Regions from separate parts of the Homo sapiens genome. Here all the other regions are reported to be linked to region 6. The links are microRNA targets in miRTarBase. Many come from high-throughput screens and were not tested one by one. Region 6 holds a microRNA gene; each other region holds the end of a gene's coding sequence.

Evidence for each region. Region 6 holds the annotated microRNA hsa-miR-1273h-5p (CUGGGAGGUCAAGGCUGCAGU, at 3,953-3,973, shown strand). A microRNA usually pairs through its seed, bases 2 to 8, with sites in the 3' UTR of a target mRNA and lowers its output. Matches are read on the target gene's strand: a 7mer-m8 pairs with bases 2 to 8, a 7mer-A1 pairs with bases 2 to 7 and ends in A, and an 8mer does both.
Region 1: the mRNA of LYSET is a reported target of hsa-miR-1273h-5p. Seed matches in the 3' UTR shown: 8mer at 2,392-2,399, 7mer-m8 at 2,254-2,260 and 8mer at 2,090-2,097.
Region 2: the mRNA of PPM1L is a reported target of hsa-miR-1273h-5p. Seed matches in the 3' UTR shown: 7mer-m8 at 2,009-2,015.
Region 3: the mRNA of TTLL1 is a reported target of hsa-miR-1273h-5p. The part of its 3' UTR that is shown has no 7-base or 8-base seed match.
Region 4: miRTarBase lists IGF1 as a target of hsa-miR-1273h-5p. The part of its 3' UTR that is shown has no 7-base or 8-base seed match.
Region 5: miRTarBase lists TSKU as a target of hsa-miR-1273h-5p. Seed matches in the 3' UTR shown: 7mer-m8 at 3,297-3,303 and 7mer-m8 at 2,876-2,882.

Annotation. Positions count from the first base shown.
Region 1 is chr14:93,186,108-93,190,305 of GRCh38, reverse strand. It overlaps LYSET (lysosomal enzyme trafficking factor), which reads right to left. Exons shown (of 2, transcript NM_001098621.4): 2 at 1,843-4,046. The coding sequence ends at 3,635. Among named protein-coding and RNA genes, the nearest start is that of LYSET, 2.9 kb to the right of the region's middle.
Region 2 is chr3:161,068,647-161,072,646 of GRCh38, forward strand. PPM1L (protein phosphatase, Mg2+/Mn2+ dependent 1L) reads left to right here. Exons shown (of 4, transcript NM_139245.4): 4 at 165-4,000. The coding sequence ends at 511. Among named protein-coding and RNA genes, the nearest start is that of B3GALNT1, 35 kb to the right of the region's middle. RefSeq lists an enhancer at 1,050-1,099.
Region 3 is chr22:43,035,592-43,040,524 of GRCh38, reverse strand. It overlaps TTLL1 (TTL family tubulin polyglutamylase complex subunit L1), which reads left to right. Exons shown (of 11, transcript NM_012263.5): 11 at 620-1,009. The coding sequence ends at 749. It overlaps TTLL1-AS1 (TTLL1 antisense RNA 1), which reads right to left and starts at 1,940. Exons shown (of 3, transcript NR_125362.1): 1 at 261-1,940.
Region 4 is chr12:102,397,907-102,402,974 of GRCh38, forward strand. IGF1 (insulin like growth factor 1) reads right to left here. Exons shown (of 4, transcript NM_000618.5): 4 at 1-4,660. The coding sequence ends at 4,601. The region is part of intron 6 of LINC02456 (long intergenic non-protein coding RNA 2456); the gene reads left to right. Among named protein-coding and RNA genes, the nearest start is that of IGF1, 80 kb to the right of the region's middle.
Region 5 is chr11:76,795,467-76,800,614 of GRCh38, reverse strand. TSKU (tsukushi, small leucine rich proteoglycan) reads right to left here. Exons shown (of 2, transcript NM_015516.4): 2 at 2,471-5,006. The coding sequence starts at 4,998. The coding sequence ends at 3,937. Among named protein-coding and RNA genes, the nearest start is that of TSKU, 15 kb to the right of the region's middle. RefSeq lists a silencer at 1,177-1,436 and an enhancer at 4,419-5,148.
Region 6 is chr16:24,199,196-24,204,343 of GRCh38, forward strand. MIR1273H (microRNA 1273h) reads left to right here and starts at 3,921; the gene lies at 3,921-4,036. All of the region lies in intron 16 of PRKCB (protein kinase C beta), which reads left to right.

The DNA of each region.
Region 1 (4,198 bases), not on the chromosome of region 6:
AATATATTTCACTTTTCCCTCTTTACCTTACCTAAAAAATGCTTTGAACTATTAAATAGCCACAAACCAGAAATAATCCACAACTTGGATAAATAGCTCCTAATCAAAAAGCAGATTAAACCTGCAATCTGAAATATAGTAATTACATTTGGAAATACTGAATTTACTACATTAATCCTACTCTAATTATTTTACTATTTCTTCTATCAAGGCAAAAGGCAATATAATCTTGAAAGATAGAGATGGACTGAACATTTGCTTACCAAATCCCAAAATACTAGAATTTGAAGTATAAAAAGAGATGAATCAACTTCATTAAGAAAACTTTGCAATACCAGTGGCAACCTCACAAACCTTGCATTACATAACCTTTTTTTTTTTTTTTTTTTTTTTTTGCAATGGAATCTTGCTCTTGTGGCCCATGCGATCTTGGCTCACTGCCACTCTCCCTCCTGGGTTCAAGCGATTCTCCTCCCTCAGCCTCCTGAGTAGCTGGGATTACAGGCATGCACCACCAGCCGTGGCTAATTTTTCTATTTTTAGTAGAGACAGGGTTTCACCACGTTGGCCAGGCTGGTCTTGAACTCCTGGCTTCAAGTGATCTGCCCACCTCAGACTCCCAAAGTGCTGGGAGTAGCATGAGCCACCCCTTTTTAATAGAAATGGGGTCTCGCCATGTTGCCCAGGCTGGTCATGAACTCCTGGGCTCAGGCTATCCTCCCATCTCTGCCTCCCAAAGTGCTAGGATTACAGATGCCACCACTCCCAGCCTACATAAAGCATTTATAAAACAAAACAAAACTGAAATAATTTTCTTAAATCACTGCCTCAAGACTAATAAAACTGGCAACTCTCAATGATTTCCCTCAAATTACTCTCCTTTTTGAGAAGCAGTATAGAATGATAAAAAGCTGGAGATCTGAAGCCAACATCCTAGGTTCAAATCGGCTCTTTCACATACTGGCTATGTGACTATGGACAAGTTATTCCTACGTGTTTCAGGTTTCTTCTGTAAAATGACACTAGTAGCAGTATAATACCTGCCTCCCAGGACTGTTGTGAAGAATAAATGTAAATCACTCATAAACAATGTCTGTAACATGCATACTGAATACTTAAAAGATGCAAGTGATTTGGTCATCTGACCCTCACAAAAACAAGTATTTCAAACTGCTGCTTACTTTGAGGATTCCACGTGTTATATCAAAAGATATATCATTTCAGTAACTAGACCTTTGGAGGCAGTGAGATAAATGAGACTAATTGATCTGAAGGATCTGATCTGCTACTTTTACATCACAAAGGTACCTGCTTTATCTTTTAAGTAACAGCTTGCTATGGAATACTCAGCCTTCCTTTCGGGTTCAGTCAGATGTAGTGGAAAGATGAGGTTGCTAGGAAACTTTCAGATTTCTAGTAGACAAATAGAGAAAAACTTGTCAATACTATTGCCATTTCCATTCTTTGGCATGACTGGGCAAAGAGTACCCAGTGCTAAAACATTTGTCATTTGTGAGAAGCGCTATGCCTCTGTGGTTAGTAACGATGGCGTTAGAATGCCTGGTTATAACCCTGGCTCTGCTACTCGCTGTGACCTTTGGCAAGTTACTTGACTTCTCTGCCTCAGTTTCCTTATCTGTGAAATCTGGATAATAATACCCATCTTATAGGGTTGTTGGGAGGATTACATTAGTTAATTTCCATAAAGCTCTTAGAATAGGGCCCAACAGAATAAGCATCAAAAAGTGTTGATTATTAAAAGCATAAAATGTTTTCCAGTATTAATGACATAACTGTATAAAAATATATCTTGATCTCATGCAGAAAAGAAATGCTACTGTGTCCATGTTTTAGTTATTTGTATTAGTACCAGATGTGAGGTAGTACAAATGCAAAGGAGAAGGTACAGGAACACATCTTCATGTAATTAACCTACTGCCTGATGACCTGACCTTGGGCCAGAAAAGAAAATCAGAAAGATTATGACTTGATAGCATCTTTTAGAGGGGTCTCATGCATCTGATAAGGACTGGACTAAATTACCTGCTATAGGCTGGCCATGGTGGCTCATGCCTGTTATCCTAGTACTTTGGGAGGCTGAGGTGTATCACTTGAGGTCAGGAGTTCGGGACCAGCCTGGACAACATGGTGAAACCCCGTCTCTACTAAAAATACAAAAATTAGCCAGGCATGGTGGTGGGTGCCTGTAATCCCAGCTACTCGGGAGTCTGAGGCAGGAGAATAGCATGAACCTGGGAGGTGGAGGTTGCAGTGAGCTGAGATCGCACTTCTGCACACCAGTCTGGGCTACAGAGCAAGACTCCATCTCAAAATAAATAACATAAATAAATACAGCTAGGCATGGTGGCTCATGCCTGTAATCCCAGGCCTTTGGGAGGCTGACGCAAGTGGATTACCTTAGTTAGGTGAGGAGTTTGAGACCAGCCTGGCCAACATGCTGCAACCCTGTCTCTACTAAAATAACAAAAATCAGCCAGGCATGGTGGTGGTCACCTGTAATCCCAGCTACTCAGGAGGCTGAGGCAAGAGAATCGCTTAAACCCGAGAGGTGGAGGTTGCAGTGAGCCGAAGGTTCCAGTGAGCCAAGACTGCACCACTGCACTCCATCCTGGGTGACAAAGCAAGGCTCCGTCTCAAAAATAATAATAATAATTTAAATAAATAATAAATAACCTGCTAGATTTTCATTGAACACATTGTTTCCATCTTCTATTTGTAAGTTATTTCTAGCCTTTCAACATTTAACACTTAGTTTCTTCCCAGATAGTTTTCTAAATCAGTAGCATTGGAGCGTACGTTCTCAGGGCCTTCTGAGACTGTGTCACAAGTCATGGAAAAAAAAAATTTTTTTAATTAAAAATAGCTGGGCATGGTAGCTCACACCTGTAATCCTAGCACTTAGGGAGCCAGAGAGAGGAGGAAAGCTTGAGCCCAGGAGTTCGAGACCTGCCTGGGCAACATAGCGAGACCCCATTCTCCACAAAAAAGAAAAATATAAAAAATAAAACCATTAAAAGCATTAATAATAATTTAGCCATTACCAAGAGGAAGAACAAATTCTGCTTATCAAGACAGCCATTTCCTCAATAATTTTTTAGCAATGCCTCATAAGCTGACAGCAAGTCTAGACAGCTGGCTTAGCTGCAATAGAATGAATCGGTGTTTTAAGTGTGAAGAATTTTAAAGCAAGCCAAGTAATTGTATAAAATTTAAATTTTATGATCATGTCTGGACCTTTTTACACTTAACACAATGGAAATGTTCATATTCATTTTTTTCCCCAAAGGAAAAATTTCTGAATCATCACTATGTTGCACAGTAGAATAGAAATATGAATTCAGGTACTTAGTCAAGTTTCTAAAGAATGCAAATAACAGACATGATTTAACTTCCAAAATCTGAAGTCATCAACATGATTTTGTAGTACTCTATCTCAGGTTTTACCTAAAAATTCGTTATTATTCAGATAAAGATAGCTCCCTAATCACATGTTTTTAAAAAGCCTCTGCCCCACGACAACTTCCTGAGATCTGTGAAGAAACTGCAGTCTTGTGATCAGACTCCATATAGGACTGGCAGTTTTGTAATCGTAGGGAAAAAACGGTGACTGATTTTACGTGTCAATCAGTTGTAGTCTGCTGATCTGATTAGAAGCCTTGACAAATGCCTGGTGGCGATTGCAAATAACTGCCAAGCATATAGGGATGATACAGTAGCCCACTGTTTTGGGATCAGCTCTTGTACAAGAGTATAGGAACAAAAACATCTGTAAGTAAGGTACCAGAAAAATAACTGTCCACACCCAAAAAGGCAAGGAGAGTAATTGAGCTTTCAAGGAGTGTGTCCATGTGGTTCCTTCAAGGGGCTCCTCAGGGTGCTGTTGAATGTGTTCCAAGGCCAGCCTGTTGTAAGTCTCACTGATTTCAAAAACATAGTAAAATGCTGCTGCACTGGCTAACAGATACAATCCCACTCCAATCCATCCCATCCGCTGACGGAAGTTCATCATTCTCCATGCTCTGTGCCTTCAAATTAAAAAAGAAAATACAATTAGGGTCTAGTAATGCTGTCACGGCAACTACTCCAAATGTACTTGCTTTATCTCCAAGAATTCTAGGCCGGGCGCGGTGGCTCGCGCCTGTAATCCCAGCACTTTGGGAGGCTGAGGCGGGTGGAT
Region 2 (4,000 bases), not on the chromosome of region 6:
AAAACCCCAGGCCATGCAGTGGGTCCCAGGAGTGATGGGGTTAAGGGGAGTGCCCACAGCCCAGTTCACATGAAGTAGGTCACCCTGTTGCGCACGTACCTAGACTATCCCAGGTAAGTGAGATATCAGCTGGTCAAACTAATGGGCTCATCCTGTCTTTCTAGGTGGTTTCATCAGTTTCAATGGCTCCTGGAGGGTCCAGGGAATCCTGGCCATGTCTCGGTCCCTGGGGGATTATCCGCTGAAAAATCTCAACGTGGTCATCCCAGACCCAGACATCCTGACCTTTGACCTGGACAAGCTTCAGCCTGAGTTCATGATCTTGGCATCAGATGGTCTCTGGGATGCTTTCAGCAATGAAGAAGCAGTTCGATTCATCAAGGAGCGCTTGGATGAACCTCACTTTGGGGCCAAGAGCATAGTTTTACAGTCATTTTACAGAGGCTGCCCTGACAATATAACAGTCATGGTGGTGAAGTTCAGAAATAGCAGCAAAACAGAAGAGCAGTGAACCCTTCAGGGGTCTCAGCTGCCTTAGACTAAAGGACTTTCAACACACTGGTCTCTTTTAATTTAGTGAAAAGTGTGGGAGTTGTAATTAGGATCATCCACCCCAGACATGGAATCCCCCCTCCCTGGTGGTCTTAGGTCTATAATCAGTGACGAACAGAGGGTGCCCTTGGCCAATGTAGTTAAGAAACTGGAAAATGGTTTCTTCATGTTTTCCCAACTCTTTCATCCAGTGTCCAAAATATATAAGTAAATAGCTGTAGAGTCACATATATGAAGTGAATAGCATATGTGTCATTTAGTCTCCCTGAAGATTCTTTTCAAGATCCTGTTCAGGGTCCTCCAGGCATCAGCTGTTGTGTCCTCTCTTTGTAACAGTGGACAGGACAGACCACCCAGTGCTGCAGGAGACAGGCCACTGCGTCACCTGTGAGTGGTCAGGGGCTGATGTGGCAACACCCTCTGCCAAGAGACAGAGCTGTCCTGAGAATGCTTTGTCCTTCTGAGCCCATGTTTTCTGCTCAGTAGCAGCTTGGAAGCAGATTTGGAATGGTTTACTATTTTGGCTGCTCTTGGGGACTGCGAGAAGCAGAGAGAATGAGAGACCAGTGGCAACTGCCTGCACAGCAGAGATAACCCTCTTCCCTTGCTTCCTTTAATAGTTAAATAGACTTTGTATACCACCTGACCAGCCTTTGTGCATTTATCCTAATCATGCATGACCGTTAACCTTTTGCTTAGTCCTTACCATATGTAATAGGCAGCTGTTAAATTCACCAACAGATACCCTGATTTTTCATCTTACGTGACCAAGAAACCACGTTAGGGGAAATGAAAAAAGCAAGCCACAATACCATGATTCCTTCCATTTTCAACAGTAGATGAAGGAAATGATACTGAATGAGTCACAGTGTTCCCTGGCAAGTAAGCTGTTTGCATTGAGAAAGGAGTGAGCTGGTGAGGTTACCACCCTGAATTGAGCTCCAGCTGCCAGTTTTTGTGTTTTTCCTTGCCCCTTTCCAAGTGGTTTTCAAGTGTCAGGCAGTGTTCTGAGAAGCAGCAGCCTATAACTGTATGTGTGTTCCTTGAAGCCAGGTGCAGAGTTCCCAGCTACTGCAGCTTGGGATTTGGTGGGAAACTACTGGGATAAGCTTCTCCTTGACAATGGAAAGGCAGCAGTCTTCAACATTTGGTTGCAAATCTCCATCCACATCAGGGAGCTTTCCCCAGGCAAATACAAACCGCCCCGTGGCCTGCAGGCCTGCAGGGGAGGCAGCAAAGGGACCTGGCAGTTGCAACACAGTAAGTCAGGAATTCAAGCGTGAACCCATATTGATAAGTGGGCCAGAATTATTTAGGGGCCTGGCTTGCTGCTCTCCATTTCCTGTATCGCTAATTTATCATTTTTCCAACCTTGGTATTTTATATTATTTAGAGAAAATGCTGGGTCACTCTCTTTGCCTAAGGTGACTCAAACAGCCAAACGAAACTTCCGTTGCCTCCCAGCCCTCTGTATCCACCTGGTTTTGTTCTTTCCCTGTGAGCATTTGTGGTTATAGCTTCCCATATGCCACATTCACCGGCCACCTCCTCGCCGTGGAACCCTGCCCTCTCCCCTCCTGCTGCTGTAGAGTTTTCCCAAAGCAGTGTCCAGGAGAGAATTTGAGAGAGTGAAGAAATTGCCTTGTAGATGTGGAGGGCTGCAATCTGTCTTGATTTCTCCAAGCACTTAACTTTCTTTGACTGCACTGAGAATTGCTAATGATTTCCCATGAGATTTGCTTACTTTTGTATACTGTATTTTCCAGCATTACAGAACCTTGGTTATTGTTTTTTAGCCATAGAATCTTCTAGTAAAAAATATCTGCCACCATTTTAGATTTAAGCATTTGCCTATGGGGAGACACTGAATATGTGGATGTGTGTATTAATATTTGGGGTGGGGACAGGGAAGGGAATGTGGAAAACAAATGCTGGCTGTGAGCAGTGCTGAGATGGCCAGGCCAGGCGGCTGAGTTTGCTTGGAAATTCAGGACATTCTGACTCCTAAGAGTTGCCCCCACCCACCATCAAACTGAAATCAGCACCAATGGTGTCAGCACTTTACAGCCCATAGCCAACTTTCTTTATTTTTAACGTAGCACAAAAATGTATAATAGCAAGGAAAAGACATTTTTAAATTCCGGTTATTTTTATTGTCTAAAATGAAAGCAACAGTGTTTTGATAAAGATGAAAAAGAAAAGCTACTAAATTAGTAAATCAGTGGTTACGTGCCCTGCAGAATTTCTTAACAGATGGTGCTGAGTGCACGAGTTACATAACTTTCTCTCTAATTGAGGTTCACAAGGCGTCTTCTAAATTTTGCTTTGTACAATTAATTCATTTCTGATGTTAACCAAATAGAGTGTATATATCCTACTCCCATTACTGCCTCTTTCCCCCCTACTATGGCTTGTAGATTTTCAAAAGATAGAAGTTCTAGGCAAAACTGTAGCAGTTTCATTAATAGTTGTTAGGATAGTTATATCTAAAATCAGAGTATTTTGTTCCCTTCCTTCTGGAGCTCTCTCTCCCTAGCCCTTTTCCAGCTGTTGGGGATGTGCAGACATCACTCCTGGGGGTGCCCTATGGTACACTGGCTGCTCCCCAGGGACCTGGGAATGCTGAATCTAGCCATTAGGGAAATTGATTTGAGATGTTTGCATGTGAAGCTTCCCTAAGCAGCACTGCCAAAGCTTTGGAATTGTCACCCAAGGCTTCCTAGACTCCCTAGCTAGCTCGAGTTCGAATTGCCAATAGTCCCCATGGTGCCAAATTTTGGGATGGTTTTACAGTCTTTTAGAAATGAAGACAGGAATGGCCATGTGCTTCTGAGACCCCAGCACGATGCCAGGCCCAGGTCTCCATTAATGCAGTGCTCTGCTGCTGCTCCACTGGCAATTTGTACTCTTAACATAGGTTGGGGGAGGGACAGCTAGGGAAATTTTTTTTAATTAATTGTATCTAAAATTCTTTCATCATAGGAATAAACAACACATATAGAAAGCTCCAAAGCTGTTCCCAAGACCTGTATTATTTATTTTATATGACCAACTTGCCCCAAGGCAATTAACTCTGAATTGCTGTTCTAATGTGACATATCTGTGTACATATGTACATAGTACTGGTAACCAGTGGCTGCATTTTATTCCTTGCTGTGGACTGAGGTATTGGCTTCTTGAATCTTGTATATGTCATAAGAATATTATACAGAGAGTGTTATAGTGAAGGATGTAAGCTGGATAATTTAAAACAGACCTTATTTCATACAAGTGTAATTATTACATCATTTTGGGTAAATGGCAAACAGGATTGCATGAGAGTGATGGCATCATCATTTCAATTGAATCTGAAGTGATTCTAGGAAATTGATTCCACTGTTGGATTCTAGGAAATTGAGTCCACTGTTTTCCTTTGCGTTTAATTTCCTTTGTGTTTAATTTGACCACA
Region 3 (4,933 bases), not on the chromosome of region 6:
GTAGTGAGCCAAGATTGCGCCACTGTATACCAGCCTTGGTGATAGAGTGAAACTCCATCTCAAAAAAAAAGAAAATGGGGAGGGGTGGCGTGGGTCACACTGGCAGAGTCTCTAGCTGAGTGTGCACCGTGGGGCCTCTCTGCCCTGGCCTCCACTGACCAGTGCTCATGTACCACTCCCATCTGGAATGGAGTTAGTCCCCCCAGCCTGCAGGTGCCTTGTGTGAAGCGTTTCCAGCCAGGCAGTCTCACCTCACTTACCCTGGGCTGGTTCTGTGTCACCTCATGCATGTTGCCTTTGGAGTCATTGCCATATTTGACCTGGTGACCTGTATAAAATGTCAGCTTCCGAGGGGAGACCACTGTCCACAATAACAACAAGGTTGTACACATAGGCAGGCTGGCCTTGGGGAGCATTTGCTGGGCTGCGAGAGCCACCTGGCAGGCAGGTGGGCTGGAGCCAGGTGGGAGGTGGGCGGGAGCCAGCAGGAGTCGCGAGGGTGGGGCCCCCTCAGGCCGCTTCTCTGGGTGATGTCATATTTGCCACACAGCAGCCTGGTGGCCCTGCCTGTTGCCTTTGAAAGAGAGCCTGCCGTGATCCTGGCTGTTTCTGTCTCCAGGTATGATGAAGAATTGGCCCAGGGTGACGGGGCTGACCGGGAGCTGAGAAGCCGTCAGGGTCAGTCTCTGGGGCCCAGAGCAGGCCGATCGAGAGACTCGGGGAGAGCGGTCCTCACCACCTGGAAGTGAGTCCCACCTGGACCTTATCAAAACTACTCACTCCACCTGGGCCCCTGCTGAAGCCCTATTTTGAAATTTCCCTTTTGTAGAGCTTTTTTCCTTTCCTAAGCCCTGTAAATAAACGAAGGCACTTCTTTGGAAGGTTATGGAGTCTGTTTGACTAGTGCTAAAGGAAACAATTCATGCGGATGTATAAAACTCGCTCTTTTTTTTTTAATTTTTAACCTAAGCAGAATTTTCATATTAAAAACTCACTTTTTTGACAGAAAGTAACAGCTTCAAGCATGTAATTTGATGTGTCACAAGGTTTAAACATTAAAAAAACTTTACACTAAATTAAAAACAAAACAAATCTTATAGACTCGTCCTGCCACGAGAGAGGAATGTATTTAACTGACGGCTCTTTTAGTTGCGTTTCTTTTTACTTGACTGCGATTTTTTTTTTTTTTCCCGAGACAGAGTTTTGCTCTGTCGCCCAGGCTGGAGTGCACTGGCACAATCTTGGCTCACTGCAACCTCTGCCTCCTGGGTAGTATTTCTCCCACCTCAGGCTCCCAAGTAGCTGGGATTACAGGCGTGTGCCACCACACCTGGCTAATTTTTGTATTTTTAGTAGAGATGGGGTTTTGACCATGTTGGGCAGGCTGGTCTCAAACTCCTGACCTCAGGTGATCTGCCCACCTCGGCCTCCCAAAATGCTGGGATTACAGAGGTGAGCCACCACGCCCAGCTTACTTGACTGTGATTTTGAAGAAAACAGGCAACTAGAAATATTCCTCGGTAATTTATCTTTACAAAGGCCTTTGTCTAGGTGCTCCCAGGAAGACCTGTTTTCTTTTCTTTTCTTCTCTTTTCTTTTTTTTTTTCTTTTCAGACAGGATCTCGCCCTGTCACCCAGGCTGGAGTGCCGTGGTGCCATTGTGGCTCAACTTCCTGGGCTCAAGTGATCCGCTCACCTCAGCCTCCCGAGTAACTGGGACCACACAGGCACACACCACCACCCCCAGCTACTTTTTAAAGTTTTTTTTGTAGAGACAGAGTTTCACCATGTTGGCCAGGCTGTTCTCGAACTCCTGGGCTCAAGCGATACTCCTGCCTAAGCTTCCCAAAGTGTTGGGATTACAGGCATGAGCCACCACGCCTGGCTTCAAAAAGACCTGTTTCTACCACTTCGGTTTTGTGGATGAGTCTGTTGTAAATGGAACTAGATGAGCACAGACAGGTCCGGCTGTGTGCCTTTTATGACGTCAGCAGCTGGGTTTGCTACAGGGAAGCGCCGTGGGCAGCCAGGAGCTGTGGGAGGAGCGATGGCTGCGGGACAGGCTGCGCGAGCGTGGTTGTTCCCATGCAGTCTCCCGGTAGCCCGGTGACTTACAGGAGTGTATGGAGAGGACCTGAGTTGGTGGGTAGATGGACAGATGCATTTGAGTAATAACTCATGAGTTACAGTGCTGTTCTTAGGAAGGGTCTTTTTTTTTTTTTTTTTTTTTGAGGTGGAGTTTCACTCTTGACACCCAGGCTGGAGTGCAATGGCACAATCTAGGCTCACTGCAACCTCCACCTCCTGGGTTCAGGCGATTCTCATGGCTCAGCCTCCCAAAGAGGTGGGCTTACAGGCGCCTGCCACCACGCCCAACTAATTTTTGTATTTTTAGTGGAGACGGGGTTTCACCATGTTGGCCAGGCTGGTCTCGAACTCCTGACCTCAGGTGATCCTCCCGCCTCCGCCTCCCAAAGTGCTGAAATTACAGGCGTGAGCCACTGCGCCCGGCCAGGAAGGGCCTTTTACTCATGGTCGTATTAACACGTATTTGCTGAAGTTTCACTCGCTGTCTTGAGTTTATCTTTAAAGCTTGCCACCTGTTTTTGTTGCAATGCTAGTAACAGGAGTTTGTTCTCCCAAATGGCACCAAGGGTATGTCCTTCAGATAAGGGTCTTAACTGACTTGCCCAGGCTCTCTCAGTGCCCATGCATGGACGTGTGTCAAGTGTACATGCCATATTGTGTGTGTGTATATGAGTACATATATTTAATGATGTTTCACTGCCAATTAGGGAAAAATAGGTCTTTTCAACACAAATGGTACTTGGCTGGACTCCAAATAAACTACAATTGGTGGGCTTTTCAGCCATTCCTTCTTCGTGATCTTATTGGTATGTGTGTTGTGTGTGTTCCCTGGTGTTTAAGTTTTGTTTTGTTTTGTTTTGTTTTTGAGACAGAGTCTCGCTCTGTCGCCCAGCAGGCTGGAGTGCAGTGGCGCAACCTCAGCTCACTGCAATCTCTGCCTCCCGGGTTGAAGTGATTCTCGTGCCTCAGCTTCCCAAGTAGCTGGGATTACAGGTGTACACCACCATGCCCGGCTAATTTTTGTATTTTTAGTAGAGATGGGGCTTCACCATGTTGGCTAGGCTGGTCTCAAACTCCCAGCCTTAGGTGATCCGCCTGCCTCAGCCTTCCAGAGTGCTGGGAATACAGGTGTGAGCCACTGCGCCCAGCCGTGGGGTTTAGTTTTAATGTGTTTGCTGTTGATGGCGGGTGTGGGATGGAGATCCCCGAGTCAGACTTGGCCTTGTGGCCTGGCTCTGCTGTTTATTAGCTGTTTCCCAAGCCTGTCCCTGGGGTCGTTGCACCTTTGTTTCCCACTGTATAAAATGGGGAGTTCTGTGGCCGGGCGCAGTGGCTCATGCCTGTAATCCCAGCACTTTGGGAGGCCGAGGAGGGTGGATCATCTGAGGTCAGGAGTTCGAGACCAGCTTGGCCAACATGGTGAAACCTCATCTCTACTAAAAATACAAAAATTAGCCTGGAGGCTGAGGCAGGAGAATCGCTTGAACCCAGGAGGCGGAGGTTGCGGAGAGCCGAGATGGCGCCATTACACTCAAGCCTGGGCAATAAGAGCGAAACTCCGTCTCAAAAAAAAAAAGGGGGGGAGTTCTGTTTGCCTCAGAAACAACCAGTACCACCGCACAGGGACCCTGCCCGCACGCCTTGCTGGCTCTGGCGAGCCCTCTTACCTCCCAGGAGGGGGTGTCCTCTGCACAGCTGGCGGCTCCACCTCGGCTCCTACACGCAGAAGTGAAAGACACCCCGTTAACTGTTCCCAGCTCTTCCACCGGTTTTTACAACCCGGTTCTCAGTTACATTGTGTTGTTTTTGCCTCCCTCTGGGAGAAGGGTGGAGTCCCTGGTTGGGAACGTTGGCCTCTGAGGCTCCGGGGCCACGCAGTCCTAATGGAAGAGTCACACCAAGTGGTTAGTTTGCTGGTGACCCAGTTGCTAGGTGAGAGTGAGGCTCTGCTAAGTGGATTTATGTCATATAGTGACTGTCTCATTAATGATTTAGTGATGTCATGTTCTGGGCAGATGTTTCCTCTGAGCACTTCCAGGACACGGGTGGGAAGGGTGCGGTGTTGGCAGCAGGCCTCGGGAGGCTGTCGGGCCAGGAACAGCCCCATTCAGCGCTAGGCTGGGGCTAAGCAGTGAGCCCTGCTGGGAGCTGTCCGGGAGCCGTTGCTGTTTTCTTGTCAGCCCCCACACACTTGATGGGGTGGGTCCCAGGCCAGAGGGTTGCATCCTGTGGTCGTTTTCACCAAGTTTGATAGGCTTGGTTTTCCCAATATAAACCCATCCTCGACTGGGCACAGTAGCTCACGCCTGTAGTCCCAGCACTTTGGGAGGCTGAGGTGGGTGGATCACCTGAGGTCAGGAGTTTGAGACCAGCCTGGCCAACAAGGTGAAACCCCGTCTCTACTAAAAATACAAACATTAGCTGGGCTTGGTGGTTCATGCCTGTAATCCCACCTACTTGGGAGGCTGAGGCGGAAGAATCACTTGAACCCAGGAGGCGGAGGTTGCAGTGAGCCGAGATCGCACCATTGCACTCCAGCCTGGACAACTGAGCAAGACTCCATCTCAAACAAAAGAAAACCACCATCCTTCACCTCCTTTGCACACGGGCTGCTCCCCGGGTATTAGTGAGGGCCTGGTGACAACCTTCTCACTGTCTCCCTTCTCCTCCTCCGCCTCCCACCTGGGCTGCCATGGAGACCCCATCAGTCTGGACCCGCATCTGGTTGCGCTCCACCAGCTGCTAGGACTTTCCTCACAGGGGGCCATTTCCCCTCCACACAGTGGTTCTTCAGGGTGCTCCATAAAGCCTCCTATGCTTGCCACCCATTGGCCTGTTGGCTCAC
Region 4 (5,068 bases), not on the chromosome of region 6:
GCAAAACATTTTAAATAGTCTGATTATAGCTTCAACAAGTCAAACATACATTTCTATCTAGCCTATAGTTTTAAAGAGTCTATGTGGGTTTAACTTATTATTCCTCATTCTGATATAAAAAAAGAAGAAAAGAACCAAGTCATTTTGAACATTAAGAAATTCATAAAGACTGTATAAAGTAAAAAAAAAAAAAAAACAAAAACAAGAAACAAAAAATCTTCACAGATTGTTAGCCATCTCTTTCAACAATTTCTCATAAATTCTTTCTTTATCAGTAGATAACCCCCATCTCATAAGGAAATACTTTCCAACATTTCCCAAATGAGATCAGTGATTGCTTTTCATGAGAGCTACTGCTCTTTGAGATGTCTGGGTGAAGGGAGAATGTCTTCTATAAACCAGTAAATGCCAAAGAATACCCAAGGGGGATTTGGCAGAAGCTATTTTTTGCAGGTAAATCTATGTATTTTTTCTCTTTGTTCTTATTTTCTCCACTTGCTGAATATCTGTTTTAGAGCAGAGTGCACAAAAATCAATAAGGAACTTACTTATCTTTTAAATTCTTCTATTTGCCTATAAGATCTTTTTTCCCGCGTTTATTCTCCATGCTCTTGATCAAGTTCAGAAGATTGGATAATATATTGCTAATTTTGCTAAGTTTGAGAGCCAACAAAACAATGGAGCCTTCTAACTTTAAAAAATTTCCAACTCCTGCCCCTGCACCCCCAAATTCACAATTTGGTGAACAGTACACTACTTGTGAGTGATAAAAAGTTGAAAGGTGGTGGTGGCTAGATAGACCTAATGCTATTTTATTAAGCCATCTATCTATAGAATTGTTGTTTTTATACTTTAAAAAAATATGTCTATGCTTTCTTTTTTTTCTTTTTTTCTTTTTTTTTTAGTCAAGTACTTTCTTAAAGAAACAATAGCACCACATTGGCATAGCTGGCCAAACAATAAATGGGAAAGCAAAATGTGCTACATCTTTTATTCTAAGCCTTCTCCCAAGTGCATAAAATAGTAACAGAAACCCTGGAGCCACAGAGCATGAGATGGTTTCATCTACACAAACATTGACGTTCCAAGGAGAGGAAGGATTCTCAAGGGTGGACAGGCTTTTTGTTTGTTTGTTTGTTTTTTAATAAAATTTTCAAGGAAGTGATTTCTTTTCAGTATTCCATTGGATCCTTAGGGTGAATGTGTGTGTGTGTGTGTGTGTGTGTGTGTGTGTGTGTGTCTGTGTATGTAGGGTGGGTGTTAAGAGATTTTCATATCCCTAGAAGAGTGGATTCTGATGGAGAGCTGCATTAACTTTTTCAGGGGAACTGCCTCATCTTAAAAAGTTCAAATAATACTTTAATATTATTTGGGGAAGAGAGAACAGAAATTTGACCTAAGTATCCAGTATGGTCAATTAAATTGGAAATAAGCCTATGAGTTGAAAGCTCATTCTTACCAATGTTTACTGTTCTTTTACAAATATCTTGAAATTGCCTCATTCAAGAATTATAAAGCAATCTAATTCTGAAGCAAAGCTTGTAAAGTTTTGGGTTGTGACATTTTGGTTGCTCCTTTCTATGAAATCTGAGTCATTCTGCTGTAGTATATAGTAATCAACTGACTTCCAGGGTTTGCATCAATTTGTTTTCTAGTTTTAATTCATTAAAAAATAAAATAGTGAATTGGTATAATGAGTTATTTTCAATTTATTTATAATCCAGTTGGAGAGGATTATGTGTTGGAAAAAGTTAAGAAAGATAATATGGCAGTGCATCTTTCAGCTTTCCTCCTTGGGGGATTTTTGACTGTGGATAGAATTAAGTGAAGGAAATAAGTCATAGACACTCTTAGAATTATCACATCTAACTATGACAGAAAACACGTTAAGTCTGCAGAAGACTGCCTATAAAGTTTTGTTGAGAGGGAATAATTTTAAAAGGTACACACTGGGGACAAGAAATAAAAAGAAGTGCCATCTTGGGAAGAGGAGTCCAGTATCTTATTCCACAGAACCTGTATGTCTGGAAAACAGGCAGAGGGCAAAAATGATGTATAGTTTCTTTTACATCTGTCCATAGTGATTAGAACATTGCTAAGCATGCTTGAGGTGCTCAATTCAAATAATGTTGGACTGAGAGTTAAAATACTTGTTGACTGAACAGGATTGCTGGCTCCACTAAATGGGGCCTTCTTTTTGCATATATTCAGAGATCCAGGGAGTCTTTTTTTTTTTTTTCCTGGCCTCTGATCCTTGAGGTGACCCAGTGGGAGAAAAACTGAAGATGTTATTTTTGTTTTTCATATAGACTTTCCAAGAATGTAAAATATAGAATTTGCATGAAATAATCAAGCCTGGGTACTTTTAACCAAAAAGTTCTAAGGTGACTAGAAAGATCTGAATGCTGGATAATTCATTGTTCTAATGAGAAAATCTTGATCTGCAGATAGGGATCATTTTCTAGGCTATGATGGACTAGTACACTAACCAGTGGACTTTCTTGATACCAATTTTCAGTTGAATGGATAAAACACATTCACAGAGAGCTAGGGGCTACCCTTCTGAGCAGGCATGGGAAATTTCTTGTTGTGATGGAAGTTTTTGCCTTTCAACTGGAAACTCTAGTCAAGCATATTTTAACAAACTTTTAAAAAAATGTATATACAGCTAAGAATAAGAGTAAAGTTTGTTAAAGAAGATAACTTTGTGACTTTTTATTAGATATTATTTTAATATTTCAAATTTTGGATCACTTTCCTTATATTGCCTAGAAAAGAAGGAATCATTGTGTTTTTCAAAATGAATAGAATATTATTTATAGTATTAAACGAGGTTTTACTAGATATGTAGTAACTGCATAGAAGAGTCAGTGAGTGCTAACAAAGAGTAATTAATTCCCCTTTCACTGGTAGAAATCTCTTTGTTTTTCTCCTTTTTCTTTTCCTTTCTCTCTTTTCACTTATCTTTGTATTCATAAAACCAAATGCAGAATTCAAAATCAAATTGAAAATCAAATGCTTCCCACATATTTTGAAAAGTGTTTTAAGAGATTGAGCTGTTAGCTTTTAACAACTAGTTGGCCAGTTATTTGGATAGCTTCACTGACAAGAACTGAGATGTCAGGAGCATTCAATTCACCAATCTCTAGCTATGCTATGAATGGGTTATTTATAGAATTCCTTGCATCTCAGCAACTCAAGCGCCCTGATGTTGCACCCTTACAGCAACCCAGGGTAAAAAAAATCTGAATCTTTATCTTTTTAAACCTTATACCACCCCTTTGAGGTAGGTAGATGACATATTGCCCCCATTTTGCAGATGAGGAAACTGAGGCACAGAGAGGTGAAGTGACTTGCCCAAGGTCACACAGTGGTGAGTCCATGACACAGCTGGCAGATGTTCATTTCTTCCATGAGAAAAAGAAACCAGGACTGCTAAAATTCCTAGCCTTCTGCTTTTTCCATTCCACAGTTTCCTCTCTGGACTCGCCAGTCCAATTTGCATCAGTGGACTTTTGTGTCTGAAGTTCCTCTTGGAAGGCATAACTGGGGGGACTTTGCCTTCTTTCCCAAATGGATGGTGTTTTCAGTACCCTTCCCCTTGTGTCATCTTTGGCTCCAGGCTTCCCCTATTGTTTTGCTTTCACGTATTACCGTTTTGGCCAGACTCTTTCATATAACAAACTACAAAATAGCACCATTATACTAAAAAACAGAGTTTTACATACTGTTTGATATATCCTGTATAATTGATATGCTAAATTTACATAGTGCTCTATATGGAAAAAATAAAAAGAGGAAAGTTACTAATTAGGTTGCACATTAACTCATCATTTGAAGGAACTCTTTTGAGTTGAAGAAACTTTCTATGTTTAAAACATATGCCTAAAAATGATTGGCCTCAAAGTTGCAACTATTTGCATTATTCTTTTTTGTAAGCATGATGTGGAAAAATAAAGCTTTGTGTCTAAAATAAAATGCATCCAACTTATATTTGGTACAAATGCCACAGATGGAATCTTGTGGGTTAGAATTGGTGTGCTTCTTGACGACTTGCTGCTGCTTTTGAGGAGGCCAAATTCGGCAAATATAAAGGTTATGAAGGGAGGTGGTGGGTATAGACTAACAAGATTATCAGACACTGTAAAACAAACAGCCCGAGTTGTGTAGAAAGAAGTGCAAATAAGGAAACAATTCATAAACCACTTAGACAAGGTTGCTGAATGAATGGCTCCAGCAGCCAAGATTCAGAGAGGAATTTAGTGCAACTGGATCTATACAACACCCATGCATTTGTGGCTCTTGAGAGGCAGGGACTAAGATATATATATATATATATTTTTTTTTTCTTTTCTATAGAACATTATTGATAAAAGATCAACAGCAATCTACCAACTCCAGGACCATTTTTGCAAGGTGCAAATCACTCCTAAAGACAATGTTGGAATGTTTACTTGTGTATTTCATTGGGGGAAACGCCCATCTTTTAAATGTTATCAAACTTATTTTTTGGTAGGTGTTCCAAAGTTTAACAGGTAACTCGTGCAGAGCAAAGGATCCTGCGGTGGCATGTCACTCTTCACTCCTCAGGAGGGTCTTCCTACATCCTGTAGTTCTTGTTTCCTGCACTCCCTCTACTTGCGTTCTTCAAATGTACTTCCTATAAATAAAGGAGAAAAAGTGACATTAACTTGATGAAGTTTTATGTATCCATCTATTTCTAACATTGGGCCTCAACCTTCCATGTCTTACGCCTTACCAGTTGAGCTAATAGAGAGCTTGAACCTTGGTTTTCCTGAGAAGGGCATGTATAGGTGGACAGGCCCTTAGTACTTTTGCCAAACCTCACTCAGGCATCTTCTATGTACCCCTGGTGGCGTGAATACCACAGACAGCTTTATAATCACACAAAGATGAGATTTGATTCATCTGCTTCTATCACAGATTCATTGATTGAAAGGAGATCCTGAAAAATCCAGCCTTCTGGCCTCTAGATCCTTTCCTAGTAAGAAAAAAAATCAATCACATTCTGGATTCATCCTCTGTTGTTTTATTGCAGTTTGTTCTG
Region 5 (5,148 bases), not on the chromosome of region 6:
ATAAAGAGGCTGGTGACCCTGCTGACCCATGGTGGTGAGCTGGGCCACAGCTGACGGTGAGTACCTACTCCATGACCCTGTGGATTACCGGGTGTCGTTCTGTGATTCTACAGTCCCAGAACTTTACAAAATTCTTCAGTTCTGAGTGCGAGTTATAAAAAACAGACTCAGACTACATGGCTCTGTAATCTACTTCATAACTCCATGGTTGGATGAGGGCGGGAAAGAGCACTTAGAGGCTGCCATTTTGTGCCAGGCACCGTACTTGGTTCTCTACAAATGTTACTTCATTTCTTCTACACACAGTCCTGTGGAGGGAGATATTTTCCCTCCCTCCCTCCCTCCCTCCCTCCCTTCCTTCTTTCCTTCTTTCCTTCTTCCTTTTTTGCTCTTTCTTTCTTTTCTTCCTTTCTCTCTCCCTCCCTCCCTTCCTTCGTTCTTTTTTTTTTCCAGGGTCTAGCTCTGTCACTCAGGCTGGAGTGCAGTGGTAGAATCTCGGCTCACGGCAGCCTCAACCTCCCAGGCTCAGGGAGGTATTTTCTCTTTCTTTGTTTGTTTCTCTTTCTTTTTTGTCTTTCTTTTATTTTTATTTTTCTCTCTTTGCTTTTTTTTTTTTTTTTTTTAAACAGGGTCTAACTCTGTCATCCAACCTCCCAGGCTCAAGCTATCCTCCCACTTCAGCCTCCCAAGTAGCTGGGACTACAGGCGTCACCATGCCCGGTTAATTTTTAGATTTTTAAATTATGTTGCCCAGGCTGGTCTTAGTCTTGAATTCCTGAGCTCAAGCGATCCTCCTGCCTCAGCCTCCCAAAGTGCTGGGATTACAGGCAGGAGCCATCGTGCCCGGCCTTGAGGGAGATATTTTCATCCCTATTTTCCAGGCTCAGAGAAGTAAAGTGACCTGGCCAAAAATCACACAATTGGTTAGTGATGACCCCAAGATTTCAACCCTTTTCTGTGAATTCCAAAACGGATTCTTTGCACGAATTTTCCTGATTGTGTAAGATTCGAAGCCCTCGCCCTGGGCGCCAGGGTTCCTGGAGGGCGGAGTCCGGCAGGGCGAGGGTAGTCTGGTGGGCGGGAAGGGACTGGCCGCATAAAGCAAACAGCGCAGCCCACTTTGGCCTCCAGCCGCCCCGGTCCTGGCTCTTGGCCCCGCTGGGATCTGGGGTGTCTGGCCATGCGTGAGCACGAGGTGGCGCTGCGGGCCGGGAGCCTCCGCACGGGCAGGGAGGGGCCGCGCGGACTCCCGGGTCGGCGAGGCCCGCCGGGGCTTCCGCTCTCCTTATGGCTGGCAGGAGGCCAGGGCTGCGGGGTGCAGGGCAGGTTCCCCACGGGAAGGACGAGCCCGCCCAGCGTGATGGCATCCGCGCCCATGCTCTCACTGGGCCTTCACCCTGCCCCGTTTTGCAGAGGAGGAAGCTGCAGCTCGGGCGGAGGTGACCTGCTCCAGAACTGATTGCCGCAGAAGCCCCCTCCTTCCCTTCGCTGCCCTCCGCACGCTTTGGCCCTGTCTTTAAGGCCTTTTTGTTCCATGGCCCTCCCGCAAGGACTCCTTCCACAAGCGGGGACTTGGGAAGACCCGGACCCATTGGGTGAAAGTACCGTGATCCCTACCTCCATCTGAATCCTCTCCTGTCCCAGGAAATGTAGGGGAAGTGGAGAACAAACAGGAGGACTGTGGGGGCCCGGGGTCTCACCCTGACCTCCCTCTCCTCCACACCGCCCGGCGCCAAGCCTCAGCTCTTTCCTACCTTGACCGCTGGGTGCCAGCCTCGGACCCAGGGCCTCAAGCTGATACTTCTCCCTGGGGAGGCCTGATTACAAGATGGGCAAGCTCCCACCAGTGCATATGGCCTGAATGTTCTGGGCACAGAGTAGGGATCAGGAAAAACCTGTCATTGGTGATGATGGTAGACATTCCCTGTAGACTGGCCAGTTAGAAGGAAGAACTTGGTGACAGCAGAGCCACCCAGATGAGCTCCAAGTGTGATCTCTGTCAGTGGAAGTGTGCAAACAGGAGCTGGGGTACCATAGCAGCTGAAGCACCAAGGAAGAACAAAATACTGTTGCAGTTCAGAGGAGGGAGGTGGAAGGGGCCAAGGAAGCTTCTGCGGGCGGGCAAGAACTAGGTCTACTGGATAGGAAGGAGGTTGAGAGACAGGGGTGAGGGCAAGGGCAAGGTCCCACAGTAACGCCTGAGCAAGAGAACAGGTGTGCAAGGGCCTGCATGCTCATGGCTATGGCTGGAGCTGGGGTGGCAGGAACAGTGGGGTAGGGCCACGGGAGATGAGAGGTGAACAGGGTGCAGGAACTCCCTCCTTCACGTCACCTTACTCCCCAAATCCTGAGATTATCAGGCTTTTCAGGGAGAACAAGCTGCCCAGGGCAGGGCCTAACCTGATTCATCTTTGTGGCCCCAGAGCCCAGCCCAGGGATTGCCAGTGGACACTGGCTGAGTAAAGCAAAGAACTTTTTATAGTGTTTATTAAATCAAGGACCGGTTAGATAGATGATGGGCTAGGCAGGTGGGGGAAGACAGAGCTCACTGCCCTGTGGGGTCTCTGTGGGGCCAGCCCCTGATGCCCATGTGGCCACTGATGCCCAGCTTCCCCCAACACCCCAACACAGGCCCAGGACAATATTACAAAAGTGAACAAATGCAACCTTTTTCTGCTTTTACAAATGACATGTCTCCATCCCCGGCCAGCAGGGGTAGGGGAGGCCGGTTGAAAGTGACACTCCGTTAAAAAGGCAACAACTTTTATAAAATGAAGACTAAGGAAACAGCCCAGGGTTCGGAAGCTGAGATGCTACCCTGGGGGTAGAGCATAGACATGGGTCGGGCAGACCTTGTCTCCTTTCACGGCATTCCTGGGAGGGTAAGAAGGGCTGTCGTGCTCAGGGCCAGTGGGGACTGAATCCAGGAGGCCCCTTGGAGATCCCAGCCAGATGAGGCTCCAGAACTGCAGCAACTCCTTGGGGCAGCATCTAGAGGATGCTCAGGGGAAAATGGGTAGGTTTCCAGTCTGGATGCTGGGGGACCCCAACCCAGGGTGAGAAACTGGCTAGGCTGGAACCAATGTGCCCTAAGCTTCCAGAGGCTCCGAAGGGCAGAGTGACTTAGCCCATGCCGCACAGCTGGTCAGAGGCCCAGAGTCCCACTTGTGAGGCTCTTGCCTGTCCTGCTGCTGCTACTCCTGTGCTAATGGGGAACAGGCAAGGGCAGCAAGGGGAGCCCAGGCGGGGAGGGTGGGGCTTATTAGAGGAGACAAGAAAGTGCATTGGGTCCGGGCTGGGAGGCAGGAGGCTGTGCTCCAGTCATGCCACTGCCCGCAGGAACTTAGATTAGCCTTTTTCCTTCTCAAGGCCTCAGTTTCCCCATCTGTCACATGAGAAGGGTGGACTTGATTCTTTGCAATTCCTTCTACCATTAAGGTTCTAGGGAAATAGAAAAGGATGAAGCGGGCCTCATGGCCTCATGGCAAAGAAAGGGCTATGTTAGAAAAGAAACTCGCCCCTGAGTGACTGGGCCATGGGCCCAAGGGGACACTCAGCCCAGTGGACCTGAACTCTGCCCTGCAGCAGGGGGTCCCACCCACCCTCTGCCCATTGCGGGTCAGGCCGGCCCAGGCATGAGGGAAGGCACTTGGGGGATAAGTGGGGAAGGGAAGCAGGAGGGGACCCGAGTCTGGTTTGGCATCGAAGTCCCTCTGCTCATGGTTTGGGGAAGCAACGTAGACAAAGGGGTGAGACTTTGCTCCTAGGTGTGGCTCCCAGGTCCAAAGCCTCTCCTAGGCCCACAACTCCTGTGGTGACGCTGCCACATAGGCCTGCGGGCTCCCCACTGGTGTTGGCACATTGAACATAAGTTACTCGGGACCTGAGGCAGCCCAGGACAGCAGTCTGTTATGTGGCCCTGGGCCACACCATTTGTCACAAGATGGTGGGGCCCCTGGCAGCAGAATCCCGGGTGTCTACGCAGTGCAGGGCCACCTTGGGGCTGGAGCCAGGCCTCCGGGGGTAGGTGCCCTCCCGCACCAGGCGCCGGCACCGCACATCCTGGCCCACGCTGACGCTCTGCAGTGCCGGGAGGTGGAGGAGCAGCGCCTCAGGCAGGGGCACCAGGTTGGTGCCCGAAAGGTCCAGCTCCTGCAGGGAGCTCAGGCCTGAAAACACCTCAGCTCCTGCCCAGTTAAGCTTGGGGTTGCCCGACAGGTCCAGGACCTGCAGGCCCGGTAGCTCACGGAAGCCACTGGGCGCCAGCTCAGGGAGCCTCTGCAGGCTGGCCAGAGACAGGTGTGTAAGGCCTCCCAGCCCCGCGAAGGCACCCGGACCAATGACAGCTAGAGGGTTCCCATCCAGGCTCAGGTAGCGCAGGGGCAAGTCTCGGAGGTTGGGCACGGCATGGAGCCGGTTCCAGGCCAGGTTCAGGCTCTGAATGGTGGGCGCAGGCAGGCCGGCCCTCGTGGGGTGGGGCACGAGGCGGTGAATGAGGTTGTGGGAGAGGTCCACGTGTAGTGCCCGGCCCTGACTGTGCGTCGTGAAGGCAGACACTGAGACCTCCCGGAGCTGGTTGTGGCTAAGGTTCACGTCGCTCAGGGGTGAGCTGGTGAAGCTCTCGGCTGGCAGGGCTGTCAGGCCATTGTGGCTGAGGTCAAGCGACTCCAGGTAGCGAAGGCGGGAGAAGGCAGTGGGTGAGATGCTGGTGAGCAGGTTGTGGCTGAGATCCAGGCCAGCCAACGTCGTGTAGCCCGGCCCCGCCAACACCGACTCATTCACCATCTCCAGCCGGTTGGAGGACAGGTCCAAGTGGGCTGTGTCCAGAGGGATGGGCACCGGCATGATGTGGGGGCCCAGGCCGCTACAATCCACCCGAGTCAGGCTGAAGCTGTCGAAAAGGCCGAAGGTCTCCACCTCGCATTGGCACCCGGGGAAGCATGGCCGGGTTGTCTGGGCCCCACTCACGGCCAGCAGCAGCAGCAGGGGCCACGGCATGGTGGGGGCTAGAAAGAGAGCCACAGGTGAGGAATGAATGCACCAGATGGTCTAAAGCCACCACACAGGACATGAGCCCAGTCTAGACACTGTTGGAAGGTGTCACAGACCCCGACCTCCTGGAATGCTTCCTGGAACACTCCCCAGAGT
Region 6 (5,148 bases):
CTGAGAGTCTAAATGCTGAACTGCTTCAGAAACTAAATCATACTCACAGGACTTGGTTTCTCAGCAATTTTATCATCTGAAAACATTGTTTATGTAGCTGAGGTCAAAAGCTTCAAGTACTGCTTTAATGAGCTGCGAATCTGTTCATGTGACATTCTCTTCCAAACCCAATTGCCCTTTACACTGTATGAGTAAGTGCCTCTGTGTGTGTGTGTCTGAATGTGTGTGTTTGATGTGCTGACATTTCTGAATTGAATCCAGAAAGTGTAACCTTTGTATGTTTGCTGTTAAAACTCCAAATTCAAGCCTTAAGAAAAGGATCTAACACTTACTCAATGTGATTTATTTAAGCACAGAACCTAACTCCCCCAAAGTATCAAATACTCAAGAGAACAATTCATTTTTGAAAATTGTGATTTAAAATAATTCTCATAAAACCTTTACTGTTCAAATATATTAGAAAATATATTGCATTTTTGTCTGCATCAGGCACTGTTTTAACTGCCTTCCATGAATTGCCTCATTTAATTCTCTCAACCCTGTAAGGTAGGGTTATCACCACAGTATAGATGAGGAACTAGAGCTTGGAAAAGTTAAGGCATTTGCCCAAGGTCCAGCAACTAGAAAGCAGAGGAGCCAGGACTTGATCCCTGGACTGTACACTGCACAAGACCCTTGTAAAGATTATTAGAAGCACTTGGAGCCCCTGGTAAGGTTTGTGATTGTGCTACCAGGAGAGTCATGATAACACCATCGAATGGTGTCTGTTACATAATAGAAAAAGACTGAGTATTCTTACAATTCAAATGATTTAAATTTATTTTAAAATATTGCAACAAATAAGTAGCATCTTCACAGCTTTTATAATTCGTTGTCAGGATTTTAAAAGATGCAAATCTTATTTGTTCCTTAGGGCTTTGATTTTGAGGCTGACAAAGACGGCATGCATTGACTAACCTCTGAAAGAAGGGCATGGCAGCATTGAAATGAGGCAGCCGAGACAGGCTCATTAAGGAGTAGAGGTTTCCCTGCTCATTTCTGGTTGTTCTTTTGGGGTATCCACTGTGTGGAGTTTGCAGAGATCTTAATAAAAATATCAACCTACATTTATATACTGACAAACAAATAGCCAAGAGCCATTTAGGACACACAGCTTGGAGTCTGTTTATCTCTCTCCACCTATCTACACACCCATGGAGAACCCATTTAAACTTCAGATCAAACCAGGCTCCCTTTAGATGGTTGGAATTGTCAGGTTCCTGAGCCAGGTGAAGTTCCTAAATCAGTTTCTGTCTTAGTCCATGTTGTGTTGCTATGACTGAATACCACAGACTAGATAATTTATAAAGAAAAGAAATTTATTTCTTACAGTTCTGGAGGCTGGGAAGTCCAAGGGTGAGGGGCTTGCATCTGGTGAGAGACTTCTTGCTGTGTCATCCCATGGCAGAAGGTGAAGGGCAAGAGAGAGTATGCGTGCATGTGTGTGCATATATATGCATATGCATACATGTGTGTGCACATGCAGGGGAAAGATACGGAGCCAAACTCATCCCTTTTATTAGGATCCCACTACCAAGATAATGTTGTTAAGTTCTCATGAGGTGCCACCTCTCAACACTGTTGCATTGGAGATTCAGTTTCTAACACATGAACTTTGGCGGGGCAAGTCAACCATAGAACCTACCAGATACATGACTTTGAGTCATGTACTATTATATTATTATTTATTATTATTATTGTTATTTTGATACTGGTCCATGGCCCAGGGATTGGGGATCCCTGCCCTAAATCGTGAGGAAGATTGAGGCCCATGGGTGCCACTGGTTGGTAGCCGTCAGCTTCTTACCACCTACCGGCACCTCCATAGTCATCTTGACCTCCTTGCCCAGCTTCCATCTCTGTCTTAGCAAATATGTTTTCCCTCCCCCAACTCATGTGAGACTTACCCTCACTCCTGCTCTGGACTCCAGCCTCTTGATCCTTCATGCTTATCTCCCCTGTTTAGTCTGTCTACAGCTTCTCTCTGTATCAACAAAACTCCTATGGTTTCAAATAGGAATCTGATTTAAACTGACTTTTAAGCAAAAAATAATGATAGTTAGTATTCAGATGTAGATGGATCATCTACATCTGGTCCCAAACAATGCCAGCAGGGAAACATTTATCTATATCCCTTAGGATTACTTTCCCCACTGTGTTGACTTCATTCTTCATTCTCAGAAGGCTTTCTTGGGCACATAGCAACTCCCAATTTATGTCCCATTATCTCTGCAACTTCTACCAAAGAAAAGGGCTTCCTTTTTATAAAATCCCAGCAGCCTAGGACTCAATCTTTTTGGAAGATTATTGGGTCATATGCCCATCTCTAAGGGAATTGCTCACTGCACCAGGGGGATGGAATGTGCTGATTGACCGGGCCTGGGTCACCAGCCCCTCTTAGCCAGAGAGCTGGATCTAATCCAGACATTTTGAAAAAAGAGAAGGAATGTCCTATCTAAATCAGACATTTTGAAAGAAGAGAAGGAATATCTCCTTTAAGAAAAAAAAGCCACTGTCATGGCCGGGTGTGGTGGCTCACGCCTATAATCCCAGCACTTTGGGAGGCTGAGGCGGGTGGATCATGAGGTCAGGAGATCGAGACCATCTTGGCTAACACGGTGAAACCCCATCTCCACTAAAAAATACAAAAAATTAGCTGGGCGCGGTGGCGGGCACCTGTAGTCCCAGCTACTCGGGAGGCTGAGGCAGGAGAATGGCGTGAACCCAGGAGGCGGAGCTTGCAGTGAGCTGAGATAGCGCCACTGCAGTCCAGCCTGGGCAAAAGAGCGAGACTCCGTCTCAAAAAAAAAAAAAAAGAAAAAAAGAAAAATAAAGCCACTGTCACTAGAAGAAAAGACAATGCCTGCTGGCTGGGCAAAAACAGCAGCTGTCCTTTCTGACTCTATCCTGGCCTTCTCCTTTGTGCATAAACCTGCTATGTCTTTTTCATGTTAAAAATCCCCTACCTCAAACCTGGGAATCCTCCTTACTACTACTCTTACTACTGCTATGATTACTACCCTACCTTACTTTGCATACAAACACACTTTTGAAAGAGTTGCCAGTTCCTGCTATTTCCACTTGATGACAATTTATTGTTTCCTCAGTTTGGTGCAATCTGGCTTCTGCTCCCGCCATCCTATTGATATTTTTCTCATTGAGTCATCAATGACCTGAAAACTGCCTCTTCTCATAAGCTTGTCTCATCTTTCTTGACCTCACCATATTATTAGGTGCTCTAATCCTTTCTCCTTTAAAAAAATGTGAAAAAATAAAATATTCAAGCAGCATCAGAAGCTACAAAGTGAAATTAAGATTCCCCTCACCCATGGCTCCTAGCTAGGCTTCCTGGTTCTCCTTCCCAGAGACACCCATTGCAACCAGGTTCTTGTGTGACCTTCTAGAGAAGATGTGTTCAGGCCCAGAAATAGTCTACATCACACACAAGGATGTTAGCATGCTGTGTACAATTTCTGTATCTTGCATTATTCCCCTCTGTCTTGGAGATTGTTTCTTATCTGCTTATCTAACTCTACATCACCCTTTGAATAACTTCCTAGTTTCCTATATAAGTGAGTTTATCTGTAGGAAAAGTTCAGAGTGCCTTCTTTCTTTTTAAGCCCCTCTTCTCCTTCATTTTTATGACATTGTGTGTCTGTCTTAGTCTGTTTTGTGCTGCTATAAGAATACCTGAAACTGGGGCCTGGTGCAGTGGCTCATGCCTGTAATTCCAGCACTTTGGGAGGTTAACATGGGCAGATCACTTGAGCTTGAGCCCAGGAGTTTGAGACCAGCTTGGGGAACATGGCAAAATCTGTCTTTACACACACAAAAATTACAAAAATCAACCAGGTGGGGTGGCACATGCCTGTAGTCCCAGCTACTTGGGTGACTAAGGCAGGATTGCTTGAGCCTGGGAGGTCAAGGCTGCAGTGTCGTGGTCACAGCTTGCTGCAGACTCGACCTCCCAGGCTTAAGCAATCCTCCTGCTCGAGTGACAGAGTGAGACCCTGTCTCAAAAAAAAAAAAGTGGATAACTTACAATGAAAAGAAATTTATTTGGCTCATGGTTCTGGAGGGTGGGAAGTACAAGATCAGGGGCTGTATCTGGGGAGGACCTTCTTGCTGCATAGTAACCTGATAGAAGGCATCACATGGCAAGAGAACACATGAGGGAGGGTAACTTACTTTTTAAATAAATTCACTCCCACAATAATAACATCAATCCAGTCACCTCCAAAAGTTCCCACCTCTCAACACTGTTGCATTGGGGATTAAGTGTCCAGCACAAGAACTTTGGGAGAACACATTCAAACCATATCACCACATTTGCTGATGTTCTTCCTACCTTCACAGCCACTCCCAATAGAAATTCCAACTCCACAAAGACTTCCAGTGACAGTTGAATTTGGAGGGTTGAGACCAGCTCATGACCCAGAAAGGAAAACAGAAAGCTTACTTTTTGTTTTGTTACAAGTGCAGTCTCTTAAAAATAACCACAAAATGCCCCCCCAAATGGCATATGGAAAACAGCACAGAGATGGTGTGTTAATCTACCTGAAATGTCTTTCTAAGGAAGTGAGGCTTGGATGGGAACGGAAATGCATCCCTTTTTCTTCCCAGGGTACACGTCTTTTTCTCACTTCCTCTAACTGGGAGCCCCAGGGCCTGGCTTTGTCTTGTAGCTTCCTGCCGTGATGCACCAGGCTAAGTGGGAAGGTTTCTGTTCTATGTCTAAAGTAGCACTGGCAGGTCCTCATTCTGCTTGTAATTGGGATGGGAATATGGGTAGGAATTTAGGGTTTGGCAGAGCGTACAGGACCTCTTTCAAGCCAGAGCACAGCCCTGTCAGACTTACTCACTGGACATGAATGGGTCAGTCAGCCCTCAGCAGTAACCACCAGCTACCATGTTAAGTATTTGATGTGAATTTTATCAAGTCATTCTCGCCACACCCTACAAGAAACTTGAGCTTAGGGGACTTAGCTAACTTGCTTGAAGGTTGTATAGCTGGGAATTGTTGGAGCCAGGATTGGTACCCAGGTTAGCTTAACTTTTAAGTCCGTGCCACACAATCAGATACATAGTATGAGGCAATGGGATGTAATG